2 linked regions of the Homo sapiens genome follow. The protein of the gene in region 1 purifies or fractionates together with the protein of each later gene. This does not show direct contact. Each region holds a gene or a part of one and is shown on either strand. Other genes may lie near its edges. The genes, in order: PCDH7 and CYBRD1.

Region 1 (3,836 bases):
TGGTGAAACCCTGTCTCTACTAAAAATACAAAAAATTAGCCGAGTGTGGTGGCGGGCGCCTATAGTCCCAGCTACTCTGGAGGCTGAGGCAGCAGAATGGTTTGAACGCAGGAGGCGGAACTTGCGGTGAGCCGAGATTGTGCCACTGCACTCCAGCCTGGGTGGCAGAGTGAGACTCCATCTCAAAAAAAAAAAACGACCTAAAGTTAATAATAATCCCAACTATTTATCATTGTTATTTAAATAATAATGGTAAAACATTTTATCAATTAATATAGTGAAAATACAACTTATTACTTATTTATAAATTATTGCATATTATTGTCTCATTTAGTTCCTTCTGCAATCCTATGATTTGCAATTGAACAAACTGAAGCTAAGAGGGGTTAGAAAATAATACTCCTTGTAGGAGGTAAAGCCAGGATTCAAACTGAGGTCATCAGATTTCAAAGCTTGTTTTGTAAACCAGTAGATTCTACTTACAGCACTGCCAATTCTTCTCTAGGACAGTACCTTCTTTAGACTCTTTTAGATTGTACTGCTCATTTTACTAGACAGCTGAGAAGCCACTATAGCACACATTTTAATTAGTTGAGTTCTGGCTTAGAGACAGTCTCTATAATCCATCTCTCTATATATTACTATGAAGAAATTCAAAGTGAATAGCACCCTCCCAAAGTGGTGGCATACAGACTTTTGGGGGATACTTGGGAGGTATAGAGCCATGTCACAATTGACAGGAAAGGTGAAAACAATTGCAGCCTCAGTCAGACACTGGCAACTAGGGTGGCACAGAGAAATGCAAAACTGTGAAAATGAATCCTTAGCAAGTCATGTTAGTCTCTTTCTGCAGAAGACGAAAAAAGGTATGACAGGTATTTGGTATTTTAGGTATTGTGCTTATGCCATTAAAAAGTATATGAGGATCTTTGGAAAGATGGAAGAGGCAGCCTTGCTAGAGAAGTTTGCTCAATCTACGTGAAATCAGCACAAACCAATAACTAGACAACTTTGCCTGACAGATGCCTGCTTGAAAATTGGGAGACAGGAGAAAAGGAGAGAGAAAGAGGAGGTCCTTTATCTCATACAAAGATATGCCTTTGGTCTCTATGCTCATTACACTTGGCCATTTAAAATTAGTGGCTTATTCTCAATGATATTTCAAATACACTGTCTAAAAGCAATATGAAAAGTCCATGTTTTACTGCAGCATGTTTAAATAATCAAGGACAAGGTATAATGCATGTAGAATGAAGAGATGAAGGAAATGGAATGAATCAAACAGTTGAGCTTAGCTTATATAAGTGTGACAAAGTAAGGAAGTTTGGAAAGGGAAAGTTCAAAAATATTCATGTATAAAGTCAAAAGTATTATTTAAAGATCTGAGAAAATCAAGAGGCATAAAATGAATTAGGGATTTAGAGTGGCCAAATTTCGAACCTCATTTAACTTGTTATAAACCTGGTTTATGGATCATCTGCTGTTTTTTTTTTAATTTATTTTTATGGTGTGATATTTAAGAAAGTCTACCTACAGAAAAATATATATTATTTCCTACCTTTTTTTTTTCATTTGTACTCTGACCAAAGTTCACATTGTTAAGTAAGAAAACACATGTGCTTATTCTATTGTGAAATGTCTTAATCATAATTCATGTATTTCAAGGGCATTGCACCCAGGGCTTGATCAGATCTACAGATGGTTCTTGCATAGTGGGATCTGAAGGAGGCTCCACAGCTGTCTCCCACACTGGCCTACTATGGTGCCAACATTTCCACCCACCTGGCCAGAAATCACACCATTTGATTCAGTCCACTCCTTTGATTTATGTAATAAATGCATTTTCTACTATTAAAATGCACTTGCTGTGTGGGTTCAGAGAAAGGCCCTAGAATCACTACTGGCCTGCCCACATTAACATACATTGTCAAATTCACTCACTATCTTACTATGAGACAAATGTCTCCATTCTATAGCATAAAAGATACAAGAAAAATTGAATGTAAGAGAATCACAGATTATTGGACCTGGAACCGAGTAAGATTTCAGAGTTGATTTATCAATTTCCTTAGACAGTAGCCTACCCAATGCTGATGGCAAAATTGAGATGAGAAGCCAAGCAAGGTGTTTTCTATATCTGAGCTTATTAAACACTAATTATCATAAAGACTTACATAGCAAAGGCAAACTGGCTTTGCAAAGATAATTTAGAGGGGGCTTTGGAAAGATCAAGTAGGTCATGGCATGAAGGTAGGGACCAGGATAAATACAATAGACCTAAAGAAACCATTGTATACCACTCCAAGAGAAAGTCTGAAGACTACTGCGTAATTAAAATAAGAGCAAACTCTTGCACAGTCAATGCTTGCCTTGAATGAGATGGTGCTTTTAAGCCTAATGTTTGGTTTTTAACTTGAATTACCAATCCATTGCAATATGCATCAATTATTCTAACATTTTCATTGTCAAATGTTTGTATTACCTATTTCCCCCATAAACTCTATATGAATTATTACTTTATTGCTAAATGTATTTTAATGAAACAAATAACCAATTTCCTCAATCTTTGATTAGATTGATATTAAAAGATTAGCATGAAATTATCATAATGATGATAATTAAAGGCAAAGAAATATATATTAGTAATCTTTGTCACAAATAAATGTATAACTAATAAGGTTTTCTTAAAATATTTTTTAAATGGGGTAATTTCTAGTGTTACTTTCCAGGGACCTGTGGCATTCTACAGATTTGGAACTTTAAAATGGTGGATCTCATTCTACATTATTAGATTCCGGTGGTAAGAAATTATATTTATTCTTATGGTATATTCTTTTTCCTTAGCTAATAAGAGAATAAAACCTCATTCTACATTTGGCGGTAATGTGTTTTAGAATATAGCGTAAAGCTTGTTAAACAGGGAATTAATACACAGGCCCTTTGAATGAAATTGTATTCATCATACTACAGTACAGAAGGAAGATAACGCTTTTGTAAAATGTAAGTACATTTCACTTAAATTTTCTTGTTTCTGTTCCTTCTCTGCATTTGTGAAAATGTATTTTTATCATTAGCTATCCTAACTTATTCCTGGTTTGTTAGCATGACATTGGAATTTTACTTGTTATTGCACTAGAAATTATCTTCTAAACTTTACAATGAAAGTTAATCCCAAACACTTGCTGATAACTGCATTGTTTCACATAGGTTAAAATTCAAGAAAAATGTTTGAGGTAATAATAATTAGGAACTAGCACAGCATCCAAAATGGTATTTTAATGGAAAATCCAAATGAAAATCCAATACAAATCCTGATTAAAACCTAGCCAAGCAAAAAACTACAGATTACCTGGATTCCAATTAAATGTGACAAATGAATACTTGACAGGTTTCAATTCCAATTCTATTTATGTCAGAATGATCCATTAATACTGAAGATGAAATTACCAGAATTTAAGCAACACAATTGCACTTTATGGCTAGATGAGTAGTCTGAAAACACGGACCCAACAAATTTGTTACTCAAAGGTCAACTGCTACATTTAGATCAGCCACAGTGCATCGCATCTCATTTTGTCATTACCTATAGATCAAGGCTAACATGAATCACAGCCAGTAGATGACAAATGGTCATATAAACTCTGACTTTCAAGTGTTGGTCACATACAAAATCAGGAAAGATCCGTTACATTATCATGACCCTTGCTTTTGACAGGCCTTAAAAACTTGGTTCTAAAAAAGAATTAAAAGTCGTTTTTTGGAACTCTTTCTCAGTATACTTTATATTTTATTAACAAGCTCACCTGTTAAGTTTTCCATGACATGTGTGTTTCCTA
Region 2 (2,914 bases), on another chromosome or scaffold:
AATTCACTACTGAGAACCCAAAGCTCAAAATATCCCCTAAAATTCCATAAAAATCAGGAAAGACCCTAGCTATTGCCCCAGGGAAGGGCAGACCATGAGACAGGTCTCTTTTAGCTCCAAACTGAAAGTTGTTCAGCAGCTAAAATCCTGAAGAAAAAAATATTGCAATTAATTAACTTGAAAGCTACAGATATGCCTGTCCAAATCTTTTGTTACCAAGACACAATTTTAAGATCAAACAAGTGTCAAGGTAGGCCATGGCTTGTTGGCAGTAGTAGGGGCCCTATGGCCTATTTCCAGGTATGGGTGGCCCCTTTTCCTTGGTTATCTGGGGAATCTGCCACAGCAAACAGCAAAAGGTAAAAAGCATCCCTTTAATAACTACACCCCACTCCAGCAATTGAGGTTTATTCAGGGGTGGGTCAAAGTAGTACAAGACAAAAATAGCTTAGTGAAATGGTTAGAATCCAGACTGAGGTGCCAGACTGCCTGCATCTGAGTCTCAGTCCCACCATGTATGAGCCGTGTGACCTTGGGGTGAGTTACTAGCCTCCCCAGGCTTCAAATCTCTCACCTGTAAAATGGGAACAGTAACAATACCTACTTCATCCCGTCTGTCTGGGGACTGAATGAGCTAATATGTGTAAAGTGCTTAGAGGAGTGTTTGGAGCATAGTAAGTGCTGTGTGAGTACTTTCAAAAATAAAAACAAGAACTTGGGGAAAAGTGCTCTCTGAGGTTTGTAGGGCAGTGTATGCTACTTAAGTGTTGAAGCATATTTTCATTCTAAGAAGTTTAGCATCTGGATCATAAAGTACATCAACCCTAGGGAAGTCTTGGGGCTAACTTCAGTTTTGGAAATTCTTCCAAGTCTGACCAGAGAAGATCTCTTCAACCACCTGCTCTAATCTATCAATACCCTAACATAAACCCTAGTCTCCAGGGACAATTTGAGCCCAAACCAGCTGGGGAGGGAGCAGAAGGCAGGCATGGGGAGAAAGGAACCAGGTGCTTTCCTAAATTTCTTTAATATACTCTCATCATGGTATCTGTGTAGAGTCATGATCTAAACCCTGTCCCAGATATTCCTTATCGGATTTTAAACTTTTAGGACTGCTTCCCGCTAGTTGTGAAATCATTGTCTCCCAGAATTAACAGGAAATGACTGCATGACAACAGGCCAGGGATGCTGCCAGTTTATCCAATTAACTACTAGTAGACACATATTCACATATTGAGTATCTATTCTGCACAAGGCACCGTGCTAATGTTGTGGTCCTCAACAAGATAAAGGTAACATAACCACAATTTATATCTGCTATTATTTATATTAATCACATCCTTTCCAATTCAGGTCAGTTCATAGGCCTCAATCAATACAAATTATTTCAAGAAACCATCCTTTGTGATTAAAGTAAATATTGATACTACATAGCCCAATTATCATATGGCTAATAGGAGAAGCAAAACTGTAGAGCTAGTTTTGAAACGTGACGTTATATGGCTCTATCTCTACAACATTTTACATGGTAGATCTCTGCCCAGCCTCATCCAGAGCTAAGTTTCTTTTCCTTGCTGCTACTTCACTGTTTAACTCTGAATCTGATTTGTCCATGTTGTTGCCAGAGTAGGCTGGCATGGAACCTCTTGCTCCCTGTTCAGTGCCTCCATTTGGATGAAGAATGGTAGAATTTGGCTCCTTAGGACGTTTCCATTGCGGTCTGGTGACTATCCAAAAAATGAGGGCCCCGAACACCAGGATCAGAAGGCCAAGCGTATTTACGAAAACACCTTCTGGCGGGAATGTACTGTATGCAGGATCTCTCCTATGAAATAAGAGATGTATCCAATTACAAACAGGATGATACAGCAACATGCAAAACAGTCTTGAATTTATCTGCTCAAAATGCACACTAGTACAGTTTCAATGTAAACTCTCAAAGCTTGCTATTAAGGAGAAATATAAATTATGCTACAATTCACTCGGGAATATATAATGAAATTGATTTAAAAATAATAAATATGAAAATAATATAGCATCTGTAACACTTGTTTTAAGGCAGGTAGGGTCTGGAGGCAGGCAACCTCAGGTCAATTCACACGGACTTCCTAGAACTAAACCAAAAGGAAAACCCCAACTTTCCACATCTAAGTAGCAAAAGGACCCGAGGCTACTCCCTTTGCAAACCCCGCTTTTCTGCATGGCGGATGGAAAATTGAAAGTATCTCTGATTGGTTGCTTTCTACAACCAATCAAACTGACTGCAGGCCACCACTTCATTTACATGCAGTGAACACCAACTGGCCAATGGGAAACCTCTAGGGGCTATTTGGACCCAAGAAGATTCCCTATCGGGCCGTTGAGTGGCTGCTCAGGCCACTCCCGCCCTGTGGAGTGTACTTTCATTTTCAGTAACTCTCTGCTTTTGTTGCTTCATTCTTTACTTGCTTTGTTTGTGTGTTTTGTCCACTTCTTTGTTCAAAACGCCAAGAACCTGGACACCCTCCACCAGTAACAGTTATCACTTAAAATTTTTAAAAAGGATGAAACAAAAATGTATGTACACTATAATTACAATTAATATAAAAACATGCATATCAACAAGATTGAAAGGGAATGTATAACTTCAATAGTTGTTTCATAAGAGTAATACAATTTGTCAGACTTTTTGGTCCTTCTAAACTTTTAGTAATATCATATTACCTATATGATATAACAAATTCTTTAAAATATTTTTTAATTTTAATATCTAAAAAATTTTGTTATATTTTTATTACATTTTCCCAGTGAACAAGTATTTAACATTTTGTGGCTTAAGTATTACAATTAAGAAGACTATGCAACTTACAGGGAAAAAATCAGTTTCTCTGTCAATCCCATAAGTGCTGTTGCAATCACTGTTCCAAAGATGACA

Evidence for each region.
Region 2: the proteins of PCDH7 (region 1) and CYBRD1 purify together in Homo sapiens (affinity purification with mass spectrometry; one large-scale study listed by BioGRID and IntAct). This does not show direct contact.

What each region holds. Positions count from the first base shown.
Region 1 is NC_000004.12:30,922,551-30,926,386, reverse strand, and holds part of PCDH7 (protocadherin-7 isoform d precursor), read right to left. Parts: intron 1-3,836.
Region 2 is NC_000002.12:171,553,435-171,556,348, reverse strand, and holds part of CYBRD1 (plasma membrane ascorbate-dependent reductase CYBRD1), read right to left. Parts: coding exon 2,849-2,914; intron 1,826-2,848; coding exon 1,522-1,825; 3' UTR 1-1,521. UniProt on the Homo sapiens protein: Plasma membrane reductase that uses cytoplasmic ascorbate as an electron donor to reduce extracellular Fe(3+) into Fe(2+).